Linked DNA regions of Homo sapiens. The protein of the gene in region 1 purifies or fractionates together with the protein of each later gene. This does not show direct contact. Each region holds a gene or a part of one and is shown on either strand. Other genes may lie near its edges.

The links.
Region 2: the proteins of FRMD3 (region 1) and LCLAT1 purify together in Homo sapiens (affinity purification with mass spectrometry; 2 studies listed by BioGRID and IntAct, with this or other methods). This does not show direct contact.
Region 3: the proteins of FRMD3 (region 1) and KLHL15 purify together in Homo sapiens (affinity purification with mass spectrometry; 2 studies listed by BioGRID and IntAct, with this or other methods). This does not show direct contact.

What each region holds. Positions count from the first base shown.
Region 1 is NC_000009.12:83,527,025-83,536,604, reverse strand, and holds part of FRMD3 (FERM domain-containing protein 3), read left to right. Parts: intron 1-9,580. UniProt on the Homo sapiens protein: Putative tumor suppressor gene that may be implicated in the origin and progression of lung cancer.
Region 2 is NC_000002.12:30,527,246-30,534,245, reverse strand, and holds part of LCLAT1 (lysocardiolipin acyltransferase 1), read right to left. Parts: intron 1,131-7,000; coding exon 932-1,130; intron 1-931. UniProt on the Homo sapiens protein: Exhibits acyl-CoA:lysocardiolipin acyltransferase (ALCAT) activity; catalyzes the reacylation of lyso-cardiolipin to cardiolipin (CL), a key step in CL remodeling.
Region 3 is NC_000023.11:24,017,187-24,024,186, forward strand, and holds part of KLHL15 (kelch-like protein 15), read right to left. Parts: intron 1-7,000. UniProt on the Homo sapiens protein: Substrate-specific adapter for CUL3 E3 ubiquitin-protein ligase complex.

The DNA of each region.
Region 1 (9,580 bases):
TTAGCAGGATAGGCAGTGTTTCTACTGCCACAAGGGTTGCACAGAAGCATCTGGCATGTACTAATAGTCTTGTGATCCAGAGAGTGTGGACTGTGCACTTTGCTTTAAGTCCTAAAGTGGGTGTACAGGTCCTTTAACCCATAATGAATGTGTAGATGATGGAGGGGCCGTCAGGGAGAGAGGCTGTTGAGTTCTCCTCTGTCTCTCAGCCCTCTTCTGCCCTGTACCACTTGGTGTTGACATTTTTTTCCCCTCCCTCAGGATGAAGTCTTCCTTAGAATAATAAATATTCCCCAAAGGACATGTATTTGTTGTCTTGTGTTTTGAGAAACAATAAATTGTAGCCAGTCTAACAACAGTTTGAAAAACTCCAGTGCTTATGACCCAACTAGTGCCAAAGAGGTTAAAATGTTATGTTTCAAAATGTTGGCTTGGGCACTGATTTTTAAAAAATTATGATGTTTCATTTTGTGATTTGTCTTTTTCTGCCCTTTCTGCCCCCAAATTACAATTATTATTTAACCAATTAAAATAAATTAAAATATTTTATTTGGATAACTTTAGACCTCACACTTTCCTAGAGTACTCCAGACCAGGAATTGAAATTGCCCTTCCGGGTATCAGGTAACAAAGACTTCCCATTTGCTTAGAGTGAGAACAAAAGGATTAAAAAACAATGCGAAACAAAACCATTTGGAATTACTGGCACTTGTTCTGGGTGAATCCATCTGTGTTTGCTTCCTTCCTTCTATAGAACTACAAAGTTAAAGGATTGTATATATTGTCACAGAATGTCACCCTCTCTCCATAGCCCACATCTGCCTGTCTGCGTTAGGAGCTCTCATCCCTGGTGTCTGCCTGGCTCTGGAGCAGGGGTGTCCAATTTTCTGGCTTCCCTGGGCCACATTGGAAGAAGAAGAATTGTCTTGGGCCACACATAAAATACACTAACGCTAACGATAGCTGATGAGCTAAAAAAAAAAAAATCACAAAAAGTCTCATAATGTTTTAAGAAAGTTTATGAATTTCTGTTGGGCTGCATCCAAAGCTGTCCTGGGCCATGGGTTGGATGAGCTTGATCTAGAGGCTCTGTAGGAGGAGCAGGAGCTCTTGGACATGTGTTAGTTGTTCACTCCTGTTCACTACAGGAGTGCTGCCTATGGAGCCCCAAAATAAGTAGGGGAAACTCAAGCCACACATCCTTGGGAGCTCATTAGTCTGTGTTCTCTAGTAGGTAAGCATTCCAGATTCAAAGAAAAATGAGCCACTCAAACAGGTTTCTCTAGCAAGGTGCTGGAGAGTGGCCACACATGGTAGATGCAAGAGATGATAGAAACCTTCAGGACTATTGCTTGAGACAATGTGAATAGCTCTAGGTGCCATTTCTTGAGCATCTCTCATGAGCCAGCCTTTTCCACTCATTATGTCTGATCTCTACCACCAACCTTTGAGTAGGTATTATTCCCTTCTTTTGGGTAAGAAAACTGAGAAGCTAATAACTTAAGTGACTTGTTCAAGGCCACATCTCTAAAAAGAGAATGAGCAGCTGGAATTCAAATCCAGAATTGTCTGGATCCAAAGCTTATGTATGTCTTTGACATATTACCCCATAGTTAAAATAGCTGAAGTTTCAATGAAATTTCCAGACATGGAAAGAGGTAAATCCAAGGTAGGGGAATTTAAACCAGTGACTGAAGGCCAGTTGGGATTCATGATCTGAATGGACAAAGCGACCCTATTTGCCAGTTTGCAAACTTAATGTGTCCTGGGTCTTCCAGGGAGGCTGGCATCTCAGAGCTGATTGGAATCCCACAATCCAAATGTCACTGGGGGCCATTTCCACCCCCCAGAAACATGGTATTTGCCTTTAAAGAAACTATATGCATAAATGCCTTGTTAGGTTTGATACACTGTGTCCTTATATTTCAGACAGTAGTAGCCCCAAATTATGCCTATGCATCAAAAGATGAACCAAGCCAGAAACTAAGGGAGAATTGCCTAGTTGTGCTCTGATTAGAGGGTGTGATGGTGAAAGGGCATGTGTTTTGTGCCTCTTCAGTGTGCCTCCCACAAGGGGAGAAGGCAGAGTATTCTCCTTGTTACCTCCCCACCCCCTAGGATCTTTGCATTTGCCACTGCATAGAGGATAGGAAAGAGCTTTTGCAAAATAACAGCTTTTAAATAATCCTTTTCCAAATCATATAATTTTGGTAGTATTTGGCCAACGAAAACTTTCAAACACACAACCTAGTGGTCCAGTCTCAGCAGACTGGTGGTCAGTTCCAATAAGAGATGTGGAAGTCACTGGCTCTGTCTCTTTTCACAGGGTCTGGGATGCTGTCCCATCATATCATTTGCTTGTGAATGTTCAGGTAGGATGGAAGATAGAGGAATTCCAAATAGACAGGGAGTAAAGGGGAGTTTGGGTTACAAGACAGAGGCCTGGGGAAGGGAAGGAGTTACTGAATGCTCCTTATTGGGCTTTTCCAATTGAGCCAACCCCTGAAGTCTGGATTTTGTAGGAGGATGAGGTTTGACTCTAATTCTTCATTCAGCCTTGCTACTTCAATTAGAGTGGAGTCCTAGCCATCTTCTATCTACTTTTTTTTCTTTAGACACCGGCATTGTTATTCACAACCCTTGCTAATGAACTTGCCATTTTTAATACTGACTTTTTTGGGTTACATAGATTTTTGACATTATTCATACTTTGGCAAAGCCTGGTAAACATGGCTGACATAGTTGGAATTGGCTGAAAATTTGTATTTGTATTTGACTAAAAATCTTAGCATAGTGCTTTGCATACAGTAGGAACACAATAAATATCGATGTAGATTGAATAATTTTCTTTCTAGACTGTTAAATTCACAAGAGTAGGAACATTCTGATGTTCACCGCAGAGTCCCTGATATTTAGAATAGTGCCTACTATTCTATATAGTATAATATGTGCACATTAAACATCAGTTGAATGGATGAGTGCTAACCTTCCCAATATTTAGTCTAACTCATTACCTGTCAACATGAAGGTAGCATGCCAGCATTAGATCGGGAATCAGATGTGTGGTTTAGTTATGTTACCAACCAGCTGTGTGATCTTGAGTGAGTCATTTGACATTTGGAGTCAATTTTCTTTTCTTTTGTAAAACAAAAGAATTTGGTTAGATGGATGCTACAGTTTAAAAAGTCTGTGGTTTTATTATTGACTGGATAAATTACATGTGAATGAAGCATTTCTGTTGACAAAGTGGTAGTGTACGTATTATCTCATATGAATTTTATAACTATCCATTATCTCCATTTTATGGATGTTATTGTGTTACTGAGTATTATCTCAATATTGTATTACTAGATATGGAAAATGAGATTCAAAGAGGTTAGCAATTTGGGTAACCAAGCAAATAAGTGGATCAGAACCCAGGTCCTTTGACTCAAAATCCAGAGCTCTTTCATCTCTGGAGCACTGCCTCTTGGGACTGAATGATTAGGCTGCTTTTGGCTGCAAGTAAAAGAGTAGACAAGTTAAAGTGGCCTAAATAATAAGGACACTTATTATCTTAGCTGGCAAAAAGTCCAGAGAGAGGGCAACTTCAGGGCTGTTCCAAAGCTCTGCCTGGACTCAGTTGCTGCTTCCCATCTTTTCACTCTGGCATCTTCAGTGCATTAACTATGTCTCTATAGTCTCCATGATTATGAGGTGGCTGCAGTAATTTTAGATGTCAGTCAGTCACTACCACATCCACTGTCCAAGAAGAGGTATTTCCTCATGCATTGCCTTTTTATCACAGAGGAACACTTTCCCAGAGTCCCCATCAGTTTTCCCATCAGATTCCATTGGCCTGGATTGGATCATATGCCCATGCCCTAGCTGTAAAAGTGTCTAGGAATATATGCATCTGGCATTTTTCCTCTCTATAATGGGAGGTGGCTTTGCCATTATGGAAGGAATGGAATTATGTGTGTGTGTGTGTGTGCATGCACATGTGTGTGGTGGGGAGGAACAGCTGTCGGCTAATCATGCAGGAGCGTCTTTCAGAATACGTCAAATTAGGTTGCAATTATTGTTACAATAAACCTTTCATGAGAGTTTAGTAAGATGTCATCTCAGCCCTGGCTTTTTTTAGGCAATCTTTGTATGATCAAATTCTAGAACAAGGAAAATTATGAGAGAGTCCTTTGTAGTGTGTGTTGTTAAATATCATTTCTGCCCTTATGGAATGGGTGGGTTCTGGGCAGCTAAAAGGCATCTTGTTCAGAGCAGGCACAGCTCTCTATAGCAGACAAACTTTATGCTTGTTCAAGTGGCACAGTGGCATGAAGTGGTTGAGAGCATATGTTCTGGAGCACTGCTTGCTTGGGTTTGAACCCTGGCTCTGCCATTGACTAGCCAGGTGACTTTGGGGAAGTCACTTTTCCTCATTGGGCCTCAGTTTCCTCAGCTATAAAGTGGAAATAATAATAACATAGCCCTCATGGACTTTTTGTAAGGATTAAATAAGGATTATATGTCAAGTGCTTAGCTTAGTACCTGGCACATAGTGAGAGCTGAAAAAATAGTGACTGTTATCTTAATGTTTTGTGAAACTATATTAGAGGTAATCCTAAATAGTGGGAAGGCTTTGACTTAGAATCAAATGACTTTAAGCCTAAACTCCATCACTTTCTGATGGTGCAAGACCTTAAGCCAGTCACTGGGCCTCCTGTTCTTCAACTGAAAAATGAGAGTAATAATTCCTCAACTGCCAGTCTCCACTGTGTTGTTGAGATGGCTTATGTAAAAGCATGTTGTAAATGTTCAAATATCACCCAAATACAGAGTACTATTCTAATCAATTTAGTTGAAGAAAAGGTTAGCTTCTTATCTGTTGAAATGGGAATGATATTATCATGTGCAAACCTATATCTGTGCTAAATATCAGGCCCCATGATGATCCTGCTGGTGAAATCCAAGCTAGGTCCAGCTGGCAGCCACAGTTTTCTGCTAGTAAGGACAATTCAACACTTTTCTCTACCAAGCTCTTCTGGAATGCCATTCAGAGTCTACTGAAAATCAGACACAAAAGGAATAGAGGAGAGAGGCAGTTTGTTAAATACTGTGGCACAGCTCTGACGTTTTTAGACCTATATTATATGGGCCAGCTCTTTATATTAAGTATATCCTAAAAAAATGTAATGTTATTCCAATGGTCTGCTAAGATCTTATCTCTTGATATTTTCAAAGCAAAGGCAAAGTGTATTGACTTCAGGGAGAATACAATAATATTAGCTGCACATTGACGGTGTATCAGCTAGAATTCTTTTAACTACATGCAACAAATTCTAATTCAAACTGGCTTTAACATTAAGGACATTTACTGACTCATATATTCAGAAGTCTTGAATTATATATTTAATTCAAGGACTGTGGCTCTGTTTCTCTGGGGTTCCTTTGCCTCTTCTTGCCATTTGGGATGGCTCTATCCTCAGACTGGTAGTGAAATAGTTATAGTAGTGCCAGTTCTCACATTTTCATAGGATACCCTCCAGAGGAAGAGAGAAGCCACTTCCAATTCAGCATCCCAAACAGAAGTGTGCAGTCATTCTGATGGGACCTCCCAGGTCACATGCTTACCCCTGAAGCAGTGACCCTGACCAGGGGAAGATAATGTGCTGATTAGCTTAAGGTGCAGAGCTTGACCCTGGGACTCAGGGTGGGATCAACTTCCCCTGTGGTGATGTTCTGCCTGGGGAAGAGCAAATACCTAAAATCAGATAGGAGGAAGGGGGAAATGGCTCCTAAAAAGATAACCCACAATACCTACTGTAGATGCTTTGTCTAGGGTAGGTGGTTCTCAAAGTGTTGTCTGGGGAATCCTGGAAGTCCCTGTGATCATTTCATGGAGTCCATGCTATTAAAAAAAAACTATTTTCAAAATAATACTAAGATATTGTTTGCCTTTTTGGATAACAGTTTTATTGAGATGTAGTTCACATTCCTTGTAGTACGCCCACTTAAGGTATACAATTTTTAATATATTCAGAGAGTAGTGCAGTCATCACCACAATTAATTTTAGAATATTTTCATCATCCCCAAAATGAACCTTTGCCCTTTAGCAGTCATACCTCCATTTCCCTCCAGACCTCCCAGTCCTAGGCAACCACTAATCTACTTCCTGTCTGTATAGATTTGTCTATTCTGGACATTTGATAAAAATGGAATCATAAAATATGTGAACTTTTGTGTCTGGCTTCTTTCACTTAGCACAATGTTTTCAAGGTTTATCCATATTGTAGCATGGGTCAGTACCTCCTTCCTTTTTCTTGTTGAATAGTAGTCCAGTCCATTGCATAGATATATCACATTTTGTTGATCCATTCATTAGTTGAACATTTGGGTTGATGGACATTTTGGCTATTATGAATAATGTTGCTATGAACATTCCTGAAAAAGTTGCTCTCTAGACATGTTTCATTTCTCTTGGGTGTATACCTAGAAGTGAAATTACTAGTCATATGGTAACTCTGTGTTTAATCTTTTGAATAACTGTCAAACAGTTTTTCAAAGTGGCTGCACCATTTTACATTCCCACCAGCAGTGTAGCAGGGTTTCAATTTCTTCACATCCTCTCCAATACTTGTTATTATCTATCTGTTTGATTATAACCATCCTAAGTGGGTGTGGAGTGGGATCTCATTGTGGTTTTGATTTGCATTTCTCTGGTGGCTAAAGTTGAGCATCTTTTCATGTGTCTATTAGCCATTTGTATATCTTCTTCAGACAGCTGCCCATTTAGATCCTTTGCCCATTTTAAAATTGGGTTGTCTTTTATTATTAAGTTGTAAGAGTTCTTCATATATTCTGGACACAAACCCTTTATATAATAAGTGATTTGCAAATATTTTTTCCCATTCTGTGGGATATCTTTTACTTTCTTGATGGGGTCAAAAAAGCTTTTAATTTTGATAAAGTCCAATTTATATATAATTTTTGTTGCTTGTATTTGTGATGTCATAGCTAAGAACTATTGCCCAATTCAAGGTAATAAGGACTTATGCCTATGTTTTCATTAAACAGTTTTATAGTTTTAGCTCTTACATTTAGGACTTTGATCCATTTTTAAAATTGATACATAGTTTGCATACCATAAAATTCATCATTTTAAAGTGCACAATTCAGCTGATTTTCATATATTCATAAGACTTTGCAACTACAATCACTCCCTAATTCCAGAACATTTTCATCACCCCAGAATAAATCTGTATCTATTAACAGCTACTCCCATATTTGATCCATTTTGTGTCAATTTTTGTGTATGGTGTGAGGTAGGGGTCTAACTTTATCCTTTTGCATGTGGATATCCAGTTGTCCCAGCACCATTTGTTGAAAAAAGCAACTCTTTTCCCTGTTGAATTGTCTTGTCACTCTGATGAGGTGTTGTTTACCTTTTCCACTTTCAGTCTTTCAGAAGTGTACAGTGGAATTTTCTAGAGGCTACAAGATGTGTGATATTGCAACAGATTGAATGAAGAAGCATATGTGAGAATACACCTCTTTGTTGAGTCAGACATTAAAGATATTTGCAAAACAATGCTGCTTTTATCACTACTTTATTTTGTACAATATAGCTATTTTTAAACAAAAATATGTTTTTTACATTAATGTACAGTGGGTTTATTGTTATTTTTAAATGAATCAATAATCGAATATTTTAAATAATTCTGTCTATATATAATATAAACAAAGGTTTTACAGATACTCAGTAGGTAAAGGAGTTTTGAGGCCAACATGCTGAAGAATTGCTGGGTGCAGTGGCTCATGCCTGTAATCCCAGCACTTTGGGAGGCCGAAGTGAGCAGATTGCATGAGCCCAGGAGCTTGAGACCAGCCTGGGCAACATGGTGAAACCCTGTGTTTACAAAAAAATACAAAAATTAGCTGGGCTTGGTGCGTGCCTGTAGTCCCAGCTACTTGGGAGGCTGAGGTGGGAGGATTGCTTAAGCTAGGGAGATGGAGGCTGCAGTGAGCTGTGACTGTGCCACTGCACTCCAGCCTGGGTGACAGTGAGGCCCTGTCTCAAAAAAAAAAATTGCTGGTTTAGGTGACTGTCCATTTACTGAACTTCCTGAAAAATTAAAAAAAACAAACCCAAACCTAAATAAAACAAAATAGAACTTATATGCTTCTTCTTTGCCTCCAAGATCATAAGTTACAAGTGCCCCAAGTGATGTCAATTAAATAAAAAACACTGCATGTTCACAGAAAATATGTATGTTATATTTGGAATTCTTAGTAGTAACTATGCACGTGTGTGTGTGTGTGTGTGTGTGTCTGCGTTTATATTCAAAATATTAAGAGTAGAAGGACAAGGCTAGGCTCTAGTGTAATAAGCATTTTCTAATTTCACTTGCTCTCTAACTGAATCCTAACTTTTTAAACTCTAATAATTGCATAAAGCTGTGTCTTGTTTTGAGACCCTTCTTTTGATCATGGAAAATATACAGCTAAACATGAAGTGTTTAAACTGTAAACCATTTGAATCAGGCCCATTAGTCACTTGAATTATTAAGTTGTTACTTCTTTTTCTGAGTAGGCATTTTGGGAAAACAGAAAAATGTTGCAGGAATGGAAATATCAGAATTTATCGCATAAGAATCTGAGATTCACATGGCATAAGTGTTATGCATTGGGAGGATAACATGGCCCTCTTTTAGTTCTCACTCTGTGATGGAGAATTTCAAGTTGCTCTTCTCATGAAGTAGCAGAGAGCCAGATGCGGAGTCCAGAGGCAGGAAAAATAATAGGACTAGGGTCAGGAGCCAGTTGGGCAGATTTTGCAGCTGAGGTTTGAACTTGACTCAGGCTCAGAAGAGTTAAGTTCAGCATTGAGCCCTGGGAGAAGTGTGTAAGTGCTTCTCGGTTGGATGTTTCTGTGGATTTTCTGTGCTCTTGTTCAAATGCAGACTCGGATTCAGGAAGTCTTGGGAAGGGCCCTGAAATTTGACATTCTTAGCACGCTTCCAGGTGGTGCTTGTGTGGCTGGTCTGTGGACCACATCTGGAATAGTCAGACATCAGTGGAATTTACCTTTCTCCTAATAATATTGTTAAGTTCCTCGAGTGGAGGAGTCTGTTCCTTTTGTTCCTCCCTCGATTGTGCCTCACTGGGCGCATTTCTTTGAGTAGATGTTCAATGAGTGTGGGTAAGTGAGTGAATAAATAAAGAAATCCATCCTGGTGTGTCTATCACAGGTATAATGAAGTGCTGATTAGACACTGTTGCTGGGTATGGAATGATTCTGTTTGACTATTTGTTCCAACCAAATCGAGAGATTGTTTTTTCAAACAGGATTTCCCATGGCAAATCTGATGAAGTGTTGCATGTCCATGAGAGCACACAGGACTAGGCTTAGTGACTGCCTTCTCGTCCCTCTGGGCCAGGCTTCCCAGTCTTGCTTTCCTGTACCCTGGACTCCTGGTGGTATTTCTGAAAAGCTCTGGCAATATCTCGGCACAAACAAGTCATTGTGTATAAGCCAGCAGTGCCTGGAAGCCCCTGGAGGCATAGGGGCCCCAGCTGTTCTTACTTGCAGAAGTGACTCTG
Region 2 (7,000 bases), on another chromosome or scaffold:
CACACACACACACACACACACACACAGTAAATCAACTACAAACACCCTTGCTAGTCTATCCTTACTAGTCTATCCTGTGAGGGCCTGCCCTTTGCCCTCACAAATCATAAACCACGTCAGTATACTAATAGAGGAATGGTTTAAGAGGGTACATAGTTTAAGTGAGAAATGTTACCTAGGTAAACCACAGAAGTATAAATGTAATTAACAAGGCTGTCAGGAGGATATAGTGGGTACTTCATATACCCATGTGAATAACTGGTTTGAATATATTTATAATCTTTCCCCTCCCTTTTTCACATTAAGTAGCAAGTTGAGAAAGGAGGCCATTTATTTTTAACATGCAATGTTGAAATATCCCTACTTCTCCAACACACAATGAACATGTTGTATTCCTAGCCATTTAAAATAAACATTTCCAGGAACTTTAATATTATATTATACAAGCGCGATAAAAACATTTTTTAAAAAAAGTTATAGATTGGGGAAGTTCAGAAAGTACCAGCACCTAGCATAATGAATGCTTCGAACCTACATATTCAATTAATACTTACTACATGAATATGAATGAATCAGTCAATGTCAAGTACTTTATCAGCACAGACCAGTTTCTGGCCGAAATCACAAGTACTACCTGCAATAAAAAGTTACTAAACTATTAATTCATATCCTTCAATGCTGTGGTCCTCAGATACTATATATCCATTTCCTTGAGAACAGTTTATTTTCTCTTTCAGAGTAATATTTTTTAAAAACAGATTAAAATAAAGTCATCTGCCATAGCAGATCCACTAAAGACAAAAGAACCAGAGATTGTTTTTGGCCCAGTGAGGAAAAAAATGGAATCGCTTTAATGCTTAAGTCAGTTTTACAGTGGGTGCATTACATCTAAAATGAATGAACCACTTAAAATAATGTGTGAATAACCTACCAAATCCAGGAACACCTTTGAGACTCGCTTTGAGGCAAATTTTCTCCAATCTGAGGTAGCTATATCGCATCAGGCAATTCCACAGGAACATCCAGTCCATTCTTGTCCGATGGTTCATGATAATGACACTTCTTTCTCCAGGAACAAATGCATCCCCAGTTATAATCACTTTTACACCAAACATGGTCTCCAATAATGCCTAAGAAAACAATACAGATATACAGCAAATTAAAGTTATGATTTTCCATAGGTAAATTTTATCATGCCCTATAAATAAATCTTATGATTTCTAACATGTAAAAGTTAGTATTTCCCATGATCCTTGCTTCTATAATAAAAAATTGAGTGGTGAGGTTATCTAGAAGAATGAGAATATCAAGCACTATTTCTATTTTAAGCTTCTGTGATGTCCTAATTAAAAAATGCTGATTGTCCTTGAAATCAAGATATCTTATTAAGCAAAAAGTATAAAAGGTGAATATCAATATTCTACTGTGTAATATTTTAAGGATATAGATATGTAACATTATTACCTTTTTTTCTAGAAAGAACAGTCAAAGAATTAGCACTGGGTACAGGGGAAAAAAAAAAATCCCGGAAAGGTAAACTGTTCACTTTATAGCATCCTGTACTATGATGTTTTAAAAACAAAAACATAGATCTTATTTATTTTGACACTATGTAAAGAATAAATTAACTATACATCTACTAAAATACTACAAGCCTTAGTACCTAGAAAATAGTAATGTTCAAATAATTGCTGAATTTCCTTAATTTGCTTTTCTGATGGGCCAGGTATATAATACATATGAAGTATTTAGAAAAACAATATATTATAGACTTATGAGTTCTTGAAAGTAAAATAACAGATTACAATAAAAGCTGATTATTGATTTCAAACTCTTCTTTGAATTCTCAATTTACATGTAACAAATTTACTAGTTAATATTTGACTTATTAATAAAGAGAGAAATTGATCTAAAGGCAAATATACGATACAGAATCAAAAGTTCTCTTGGCGAATATCATGATAATCTTGAACAAGGTATAGCCAATAGACAAACTGTGGTATACTCATATAATGGAAAAATGATACAACAATGAAAGTAGATGAACTACAAGTACCTACAGCAACATGAAAGATACACAGAAGCATAATTTTGAAAGACAGCAAAACAAACAAAAATATATACAATAAATGTCAATATATAAGACTTTCTAAAAGATTAAGATATTTTAAAGATGATTATATAGATGCTAAAATTATAAAGAACAAGAAGAAAATAACTATCTTAAAAGTCAGATTAATGAATACTTCTACCAAAAGGAGGATGTTTTCATTGGAAGTCTAGGTAGCTTGCTGGAGAACTGACAATGCTGTATTTCTTGACCTGGTTGACAGTTACACGCAAAATTTTTCATTAAATTGTACATTTGTGTTTTAATAACTTTTCGGTATGTTTGCTATACTTCACAACAAAAAGGCATTTTTTTAAAAATGCAATATGAAACAGTAAGACTTTGAAAAACATAACAGGATCAATAAAACATAGGTTCAAAATAATATTAGCTAAAGAAATATACTAGAAAGTAAAAAGAAGTTAGAAAAGTTATATGTCCAAATTGTTACAGAGTCAAAGTGTTAACATCCTGATACAAAATCATTTGGGCTAAGTAGCTACAGATATCCCATAGGTCCATTAAGTTACTTTCCCACAGCTGAGGTTCACTTTCAGCATGGGTATTTAATCCAGTTATCTATTATGTCCTAGAACGATGGCCTCCAAGAGGTCAATAAAAATGTATTTCTCTTAAGCTGTATATAAAGATATGTCAATGTGTACACATACTTTGCTAGGTAAAATGCTTGCAGTTTTCATCAAATTTTCAAAAGGGTCCATAACCGCTCAACTAATTATAACCCCTACTCCAAAAAGTCCCTTGAAAGTGAAATACCTACATGGAAGACCTCCTGGTAAAAAGGATCATGGCAGAGTCCTACAGGTGTGGATCCACAGCAAAAAATGTCCCTTTTTCTTTTTTTTCTTTTGAGACGGAGTCTCACTCTGTCGCCCAGGCTGGAGTGTAGTGGCGCGATCTCGGCTCACTGCAACCTCTGCCTCCCGGGTTCAAGTGATTCTCCTGCCTCAGCCTCCCGAGTAGCTGGAATTACAGGTGCCCGCCACCACACCCAGCTAATATTTTGTATTTTCAGTAGAGACAGGATTTCACCACGTTGGCCAGGCTGGTCTTGAACTCCTGAACTTGCGACTCGCCCGCCTTGGCCTCCAAAAGTGCTGGGATTACAGGCATGAGCCACCGTGCCCGGCCAAGAGTTAAAAATCTTAAGCCTATAAATTCCAAACCTCAAATCTAAACCTATATATGCAATCTCTAATATATGATACCTATAGATCCCAAACAATCCTTTGCTTTTCATTATGAAAAATAACATAAAAAATCCAAGACTGGGATGGGTGTGGTGGCTCACATATGTAATCCCAGCACTTTGGGAGGCTAAGGCAGGAAGATCGCTTGAAGCCAGGAGTTTGAAACTAGCCTAGGCAACATAGCAAGACTCCAGCTCTACAAAAAATTTTTAAAGGCCAGGCATTGTGGAACATGCCCAGAGCCTTAGCTACGCAGGAGGCTGAGGCAGAAGGATTACTCGAGTCCAGGAATTTCAGGTTACAGTGAGATCTGACTGCACCACTACACTCCAGCTGGGCAAGAGAATGTAGTCTCCAAAAAAGCAACAACAACAACAATCAAGACCATGTGTCCAGGAACATCTCATATAACATGACATCCTCTCCCTTGACATCCAGCATTCTACCAGAATATGCCTGAAAGTTATAAATAACCTTTGGGCAGCCAAGATCTCAAGTCCACATTAATTGGTTGTAATACCAGATGAGACATATCCAGTCAACCTTATTTACAGCTCCTGCAAAGGCAGAAAAACAAATATACTACACAGAAATAAAGCTGTAATATCTATACAGAACTCCAGAATTCAATTAATCCAGACTAAAAGACTGGGAAAAAAGACACTATTCTCACATTTCTCATGTTTATTTTATTGCTAGTATAGGAGATAATAGTGTCAACAGTAATAAATCTAACAAAATTTTATAATGCATTGTTTCTTATATTGAAGAGTAACAATTCTGATAATTTTTACCTAATTGGTCAAAGATTTCTCTGTGTATTATTTAACAGAAATATGGAAGCATTTTCCAAGGATCTTTTATATACCACTACTTACTATGTCCAAGTGTTCCATTGTGTATAAAAACACAAAGATGAGAGTGGTTCCTCTCAAGATCACAGAGAAAGTTTTACCATCATGCCCGCTGCTCTCACTCTCATTTATCATTCTGATGGATCTTTACTTAGTCTGAGGTAATAACAACTCATCTCCATGTCTGCTTTTGCTTTTCAGGCTCAGATTAGGTCTGGTTCTCCAAATCCCTAGCTACTTGAGGCTTTGCAATCCCAACTCATTCTTCAAAACACTGAGCACCCACTTTGTTAAGAGCAACAGTGTAGACAAAAATCACATTCAGCAATCTATGTTTATTCAACACCTGTTTTGTGCTAGGACTGGAATGGTATCAGAAGGCTGTGGAAGAAACTTGTGCCCTGGGTAGACAGTTAGAAAATGACCTCTAAATTCCTAAGGCATGATTTATGGTGAAAGGACAGAACTCCAGTAATTTTCATAATCCCAGGTAGTAATCAGACTGTCGGTTAGTTAGAATTTTGAGAAGCAAAAACTGCTCTGAGCACATGCTGAGTTTGACCCTTACAATATTCATTATGTTGAACAGAATGGTCCAAAAATAAAAGGAACAAAGGCATGCACTCCGAATTATAGAAACATTCAAAGAAAGACTGAATGGTCACCCTGCAGATAGTTCTAGAACGGATTCTTGCCCACAGAGTTAGGTTAGACAAAGTGACCTCTAAGTCTCATCTAAGATTCTAAAACATTTCACTGCTATGCCTCTTTTAGCACAGAAATGTGCTCCTTAAAAATAGTAAGACAAGAAAAATCTTGCCAACAAAATCATTTTAATCCACAAGAGAAACTTAATGAAAGAGAAGATCATTTTGTGACTATTTTTGTGAAGCAATAATTAGTTTAAGTGCATTTATCCTAATTTATTTTTAGTGGAAAATTATTTTTAACTGTTTGGGATTGCTTAAAATAAAGTACATCAATAAGGGATAGAAGAAAAGCTTTTAGATTAAATTCACTCTGAATTTAAAAAGAATATATTTTATTATTGCTTAAAAACTCCTTTAGCTCCTTGTACGAGTATGAGATAAAAGGTGATAAAAGACACCCTTGATGGTTCTTCTCTGTTTCCTTCAACAGAGATGTTCACTATCTCAAAACTAGAATATCAATTTTTCTGTAACCTAGCTATAAGGAATTCAACATCTATACATTTCTTAACTAAAAAAACTTTCTCTGTCTGATATGCTGTAACTAGTAAACTAAACAGCTGAGTGACAGCAGTTTTCCAAATGTATACTAATTTTTTACTAGTACTGTGGTAGTTAAATCTTACCCATGTGTTAAACTGTCCAAACAGCTAATAAGACAAAAGTTAGGAATAGGTGAAATTATCTTTGAAAATCTCATAGGATGGTGCATCTCAAAAGATCACACTATCAGTAAGTCCAGCTCAGCCAATCTTCTCCCAAAATTGTACTATATTGATATTACCCTACCTGACCATCAGACAAAGTGATTGGTTTGTATATTGTTTAAAAATATCTATCTTTAAACACAAGAATCACACTCAGCAGAGAACCACTCATATTTCCTATTTCATCTCACATGAAGCAGAAAAAAATTCATTCTCTTCTCTGCCCACTCTTCCCTTACCTTAGTGCATGTAATTGAAACTGTACAAATACTGTAGGTGTATAATGTAATTCTGCAGTAATAGTAATGCTACTAGCAGTAATAATAGCAGAAATAGCTATTGCAGAATTTGTTTGGTAACTTGTCCTATAAATACCAGCATTTCTTCCAGATTAAGAATTTTAACTGTGCACATGGCTGCCCAGAAAAAAAAGACATTTCCCAGATTCTATTACAGCTTTTAGCTGCTCTTACCAATAGAGTAAGCAAAAGTGATATGTGCAACTTGCTATGTACTACACACGTGAGTCACTGGTATAGAAAGAAAGCATTTGCTCTGGACTTCCTCCAGAGTGGGGCAAAGAAGTGGCAGTGACCCAGTCTTGACCAAATACAAGAGGACATTATACCAGGCTGGAGGCCAAGCTAGGTGGATTAACAGGATAGAAGACATCTGAACCCTTTGATGACATCAGGGACCGTAGGGACCTTGCCAGCCTGGACCTGTAAGTCAATATAGTTCTACTGTATTGGAGCCACTATATTTTGAATTTTCTCCAAAACACCAGTTTAGCCTAAAATTAATATAAAAGCAAAACTAAAACTAAAACTAAAATTAATATAATACCAAATATTTACCGGGTACTTACCAAATGGCAAGCATTATACTAAAAAGGCTATATATTTATTACCTCATTTAGTCATTACAATGACTCTCTGATGTAAGTAGGTAGTATTAAGACTCCTTTTTATAGAGATGAAGAAACAAAAGCTTACAATGAGGCTAAGGAGCTTAGCCAAGTTCAAATGACTAGAAAGTGGGAAGGCCAATAGTGAAACCAAATATCTGTCTGCAATGTCTGTGAAAATAAGCACTCTGCTTATGCTCGCTCTCCAAAAATTAGAGTGACTGGACACTGTAAAGCATTACAACTGTAGTAATTTTTACCAATTCTCAGAACTCTCAAGGTTTTGGCAGAAAGATTCAACAAAAATGTGTGGTTCATAATTAAAGGATTATATACTATAGAAAACTGATGACATTTAGAAAATGGAGTACAGTAACAATACATGACTGTTACAAAAAATCTTTTACCTCTGAATGTTTGCTTTACAATCAGATATACAATTCTGAATCCAGAATAGATCTCAAAGATCATTTACTCCAATTTCTTTATTTTACAGATGAT
Region 3 (7,000 bases), on another chromosome or scaffold:
GGGCAACAAACTAAGAGCCTGTCTCAAAAAAAAAAAAAAAAAAATTAGATTCTATTTGCAAAAAATACAAAATAGTGTGGTCGGAAAGAGCAAAACCTCTGAAATCAGAGTGCTTACTGTGTGACCTACAGAAATTTTGTTAACTTCCTATCTTGGTTTCCATCCATACATTACTAATAATCATCATCATCTTATTATCAAGTTAGGGTGGTGAATAAATGAATTAACCTAAGTGAGAACCCTCAGTCTCCCCTCTCTACCAACCCCATGCCTCCCTAGGGTTTATCATAATGCAGATTTATAACAGATCAGAGTCAGGCGCAGTGGCTCACGTCTATAATCCCACCACTTTGGGAGGCCGAGATGGGCATATCGCTTGAGCTCGGGAGTTCGAGGCCAGCATGGGCAACGTGGCAAAACCCCATCTCTACTAAAAACATAAAAATTAGTCAGACGTGGTGGTGTGTGACTGTAGTCCCAGCTACTCAGGAGGCTGAGGTCAGAGGATAAACTGAGCCCGGGAGGCCGAGGCTGCAATGAGCTATAATCCACCACTGAACTTCAGCCTGGGCAACAGAGTGAGACCATGTCCCAAAAAAAAAAAAAAAAAAAAAAAAAAATTGTGTACATAATTCTTTAACTGGTTACAGCGGCCTCATGCCTGTAATCCCAACATTTTGGGAGGCAAGGCACGAGGATCACTTGATCCAGTTCAAGACCAGCCTGGGCAATGTGGCCAGACCTCTTCCCTACAAAAAAATTTTTTTAAATAGCAGAGCTTGGTGGCGTGCTCCTGTGGCCCCAGCTACTTGGGAGGCTGAGGCAGGAAAATCGCTTGCGGTGAGGATGTCGAGGCTGCAGTGAACCACGATGAAGCCACTGCATTCCAGTCTGGGCAACAGAACAAGGCCCTGTCTCTAAAAAGAAATCTAAGTACAGAATTATATCAATTTAAGGAAGAAAACTATTATAAGAACTACTTTGCAATGGCAGAGACAGCCGCGGCAGCAGTAGCGTGCTCAACAAGAAGTGCGTAGCCCCACTCTCCCAAAAGAAAAAAACGAATCATTGTAAAACACAAAAACCTTAAATAAGAACTCTTTAAATGAGTGCTGGAGGAAAAATTTAAGAGGCTTTGAGGAAAAACATTTACTGACAAAATGTTCAATGTACAAAAATTCTGTATCCTTACTTTTCATATATAGGTTTATCAACACTTTATACATGGCCTTCAGAATTTCAAATAGTAGGTTTTTTTTTTTTCAAGAGGGAAACCAATTAGACCAAATGACAAGGCATACTTATACTACCAGGAAAGAAATACTGAAGAACGTGTCTTGTTTCATAAACTTGGTACTGACTAAATAAAAGAAAGCCTCACATTTTTGTGCCTAAGAATGATTAGTATAGGGATTCTCAAAGCATGATCTGGGGACAAGTGAATCCAGTTGTCCTAAAAGATCCCAGTCCCCACTAAAGGGGCTTCCCAATGTCAAAATTATTATCCAAATAATTTTTTTAAAGTTATTGGTCAGCCGGGCACAGTGGCTCACATCCGTGATCCTAGCACCTTGGGAGGTAGAGGTGGGCTGATCACTTGAGCTCAGGAGTTCAAAACCAGCCTGGTCAATATGGTGAAACCCTATCTCTACTAAAAAATACAAAACTTAGCCAGGGGTGATGGCATGTGCGTCTGATTCCAGCTACTCAGGAGGGTGAGGCACGAGAATTGCTTGAACCCAGGAGGCAGAGGTTGCAGTGAGCCAAGATTGCGCCACCTCCAGCCAGGGCGACAGAGCAAGACTCCTTCTCAAAATAAATACATAAATAAAGAATAGTTATTTGTCTTTTTCACTTTCATTCTGTTTTCTAGAGGTTTACACATGGTATGTGATATTGCAACAGACTGAATGCAGAAGCTGATGAGAAGCCCATTGGCTTTTATTAAGCCAGATATTAAAGAGATATGCAAAAATTTAAAACAATGCCACTCTTTTCACCAAGTTCTTAACTGTTTTAGAAAAGTTATTTTTCATAAAAAAATGTTATTTAGGTTACCATGTAATAGAATTAATTTTTATTTGTTTATTTATTTTTTGAGACAGTCTCACTCTGCACCCAGGCTGGAGTACAGTGGCATGATCTCTGCAACCTCTGCTCCGGGGTTCAAGCGATTCTCCTGCCTCAGCCTCCTGAGTAGCTGGGATTACAGGAGCCCACCACCACGCCCAGCTCATTTTTTTATTTTTAGTAGAGACGGAGTTTCACCATGTTGCCCAGGCTGGTCTCGAACTCCTGGCCTCAAGCGATCCACCCGCCTCGGCCTCTCAAAGTGCTGGGATTACAGGTGTGAGCCACCAAGCCCGGCCCCCACTAATTTTTAAGAGTACAAATAAGTACAAAGAAGTCCTGAGACCACAGGCTTGAGAACAACTGAAAGTGTAAGAGATAAGTGACAACACACACACACACACACACACGTGCACGCACAAACCTCAACCTCTTCCTACCTCTGCCCTGGAAGACTATTACTGCTATTTATATCACAGAATTTTTGAACACTTCAAACTCTCTAGTGACCAGTAAAAAAAGAAGTTTGGTGGGGGTAAAACTGGACAGGAAATTAAAGGCAAAGAAATTAAATGCTTCCTTTTCAGTTATAAGGCTGCCATTCTGATGTGAAGGCAAAATTATAGGCAATTAAAAGACATTTCAAAATTAACCTCTATGTTTGTGCCATAAGCAATAATTTATTGCTTTCACATTCCTTCCACAGCTGCTTGAAAATTCATACAAAAGCTTAAGGTATTCAATGCAAAAGCTAGATTCTCAGAGGTTGATATAATATACTTACCCTCAATGAAAAATTTAAATGATTTCATACTATCTTCATCCCCAAACTGTTCTCCTACCAAAATTGATGCCTATGCAGAAAATGCCACAGTTGCATATCGAAAAGAGAATGCAAAGGCTTACTACGGATAAAAACAGAATTAATTTCTGAGTCATAACATTTCTCACTTCTGTAACCCATAAAGTAAAAAAATGTAAATTTGACAATCTCAAAGCAGCCAACTTCTCAACATACCAATATAAAAGAAAAGACAAATTTAAAGACAGACTTTTAAGCTCTATTAGCGGTCACTTTACTCTCAATACACTACTCAAATTGAAAACTCACTTTAATATGGGAGGAGACGTTGTGTAAGTTAACTTTAATTTGTTTAATACTGGAAATTCTTTCTTGTCATCAAAATATTTTTATAACTCAGGACCAAATTGCAAATGACCATTTAACTAAGCTATTAGGAGGGCCCTGGGTCCTCCAGCCTCCAGACTGGCACCAAATTACTTCACTTTTCAGGTATGTTTAGCATTTCGTCATCCTATAATACAAGAAGCCTTATAAGAAAAAAAAAACCCTGCTTGAATGCTATTTTTCATCAGAAGACTTTAATTTAATGCTTCTCTGCTTATTCCACACTATGACTAGAAGTAGTCCAAGAGTGATGTCATGGAAAACAGCTTCCCTAGCCTTTAGAGATTGGATCCAGTGAGAATTCTAGGAAAAGCCTCTATTGGGGAATAAAACCCCAAATCTTCTAAGTTCTATTCTAACATGAAATCACAAATACTGTAATGTTAGCCTTTCAGTTCCTCATAAGAATTATACAACCAAACTAAATATTTTGGAAAGTCTTGCTGTTATGATACAGATTTCCTGCAAATCATTAGTCTATAATATATATCATTAACTAAATTCAAAGATCTTATCAGAGACAAAGGGTATTTTTTTCTATCCATTCTTACATGTTTCAGTGATTGAGCCTGATGAGCTTTAAGGGTCTTACGTTAAAAACAGAAAACCTGACAACATATTTTGTCTTTCCTAATTTCTTACTTGCAAAGTTAAAATTTCAAATTCTGAAAAGGTCTTCCACTTTTGGACCAGCAGCAATACAACATATACCCTTGGCAGAGATGAACTATGAGAGCCTTTCCAATGATTCTTAAAATGGCAATAATAATAATCTTATATTACTATCTCCCTTGGTGCCGCTGTTCCTTGAAAACCAGCTACACTCCCAACTTAAGGCCTCTCTACACCCTGTTCCCTCTGCCTGGATCACACTATCCCCAGATATATATGGTTCCCTTAGGGTCTTTGGTGTCATTTCAGTGAGGCCTTCCTCAAACACCCTCTTTTAAAGTTGCAAAACCCCATCTGCCCCATCAACCTGACAATCCCCATGCCCCTCCACTTTATTATTCTCTGCAGTATATTAAATGGCAATACAGGCTATCCATTTTACTTAGTTTCCTTTCTGCTTCAATTTGTCGGTTTTGCTTCACTGACTGTTGCATCTCCAGCACCTAAAACAGTGCTTGGCACATAATAAGTGCTTAATAAATATTTGTTGGAAAGACAGATAAATTTAATTCTCGCAACCTTCCATGTTTTGTATCCATCCCCGACTTAAAGATGAGAACATCAAAGCTCACAGAGGTTAAGTAACTTGCCCAAGGCTATAATTATTAGTAAGTTGTGAAGTTGGGGTCTGCCTGACTTCATAGCCTCCCCTATTAAACACTGTTCTACAATGCCTCACCCATGGCTCCATCTTTCATTTCTCTTCAATAAAAAAAAAAAAGCACCACATGAGCTATAGCACTCCAATTCAGAGAAAATAGATGCTAATAAAGTAATCCACCTCCTCTAAGCTAAAGATTCATTCTCCTCACAGTTAACATTATTCACTCTCAAAACATTTGCACTGGGAAAGGCCAGGCTTGACAACAGGCCACCTACATCATTTGCGGGGACTCTTGTTCAAAATCAGGGAAAAATGTTGTTAAAAGGCTGGGCGATGGCCGGGCGCGGTGGCTCATGTCTGTAATCCCAGCACTTTGGGAGACCGAGGCGGGCGGATCACTTGAAGTCAGTCGAGACCAGCCTGGCTAACATGGTGAAACCCCGTGTCTACTAAAAATACAAAAATTAGTCAAGCATGCTGACGCGCATCTGTAATCCCAGTTACTCGGGAGGCTGAGGCAGGAGAATCACTTGAACCCGGGAGGCGGAGGTTGCAGTGAGCCGAGATCGCGCCACTGCACTCCGGCCTGGGAGACAGAGCAAGACTGTGTCTCAAAAGATAAAAAAAAAAAAAAAAAAAGGCTGGGCACGGTGGCTCCCGCCTGCGCTTTGGGAAGCCAAGGCGGGTAGATCACTTGAGTCCAGGAGTTCGAGACCAGCCTGGCCAACATGGTGAAACCCCGTCTCTACTAAAAATACAAAAATTAGCCGGGCGTGGTGGCGAGCGCCTATAATCCCAGCTACTTAGTAGGCTGAGGCCCAAGAATCGCTTGAGGCCGGGAGGTGGAGGTTCCAATGAGCGGGGATCGGATCGCACCACTCCACTCCAGCCTGGGCGACAGAACAAGACTCTTGTCTTAAAAAAAAAAAAAAAGTCGTTAAAGGTAATAAAATGTAAAGCTCTTTCAAAACTTTCTTCTGTATCTCTCAACTGTTTCGCGGTTTTTTTTTTTTTTGAGACGGAGTTTTGCTCTCGTCGCCCAGGCTGGAGTGCAGTGCCGCCATCTTGGATTACCGCAACTTCTGCCTACCGGGTTCAAGCGATTCTCCCGCCTCAGCCTCCCGAGTAGCTGGGAATAGAGTAGCTGGGATTACAGGCGCCCGCCACCACGCCAGGCTAACTTTGTGTTTTTAGTAGAGACGGGGTTTCTCCACGTTGGTTAGGCTGGTCTCAAACTCCCGACCCTCAGGTGATCCGCCCGCCTCGGCCTCCCAAAGTGCTGGGATTACAGGCCTGAGCCACCGCTCCCGGCTCTCAGTGTTTTTTAAATTTGATGTTTAATGTCGTTCTGAGTAAAGGAAAATTAAAAATTTAAATTAGCATGAATTTTACCATTCACCCTTATACTGTACAATCCCAGTTTTACATGCAGATTATTAAACCAAGTGTGGGGCCCTTCTGAACATCCATGAAGCCAAGCCTGCCCTGATCAAGGTTAGGTTTCTGAGATAACCCGACTCGAGGTAGAGAGAAGGTCAAACCTTGAAATCCCCAATAAAGCAATGATTTGTCAAAATTTTATCAAGATTAGTGATAAATCCAATCTATAAAACCAGCCACTTTGAAGTAGGCTCTTCCTTTTACTATGTAAATCCTGCCCAACTTCTATTATTTTGCCTTTTTACAAAACACAAAAGCATACTCTGAAAGACAACTGGTATTGGACTAGAGGATTATAAATTTAATAAAACATCTAACTACTCAAAACCATTTGTTAGCTAAAAATAACAATATACCCAAAAATGCTTCTCTTTTCACTTTTTGTGGACCATTTAAGCCAAACCATACTATATTTTTGATATGCCAAGTAAAAATGATCAATACTAATCTGTTACACATATAAATCCTGGCAAAATAAATTCAATTTTCAAACCACAAATATTTACTATCCTATTCTTTCCCCAAATTAATCAGCAATGAAGAGTGCAAGTTAACATCCTCTACCACTGATAAACTGTGACTCTAAGCACCTACTACGTGTTGTGATTAAAAATGAGAATAAAATTATATAATTACATTAAGTGCTAAAAAGTTGAAATGTTCTATACATTTCTAGATCTATTAAGGATTACTGAAACATGAATGCATTGATAAGCTCTTCAAAACCAATTTTCAAATTAGTAGAAGTATTCAAGCATCCTGCTCCCTAGATATGAAAAACAGGCATTAAAATTAGGGCATATATGTCTGCAAAGCATTTTCTAAATTACCACTTAATCAGATTAACAAAGGCAAACAAATTCGGAAAACAGAAAAGACTAACAAATGTAAGGTGTTAAATATTTGGAGTAAGAAAAGGGGCCTAAAGCGGCCTAGAACGATGAAAAGCAAAGCCCCTACGGTAACGTTACATTTGAATTAAAGAATACCGTTATTTAAATAAGCAGTTAGCACTTCGTAGGAGG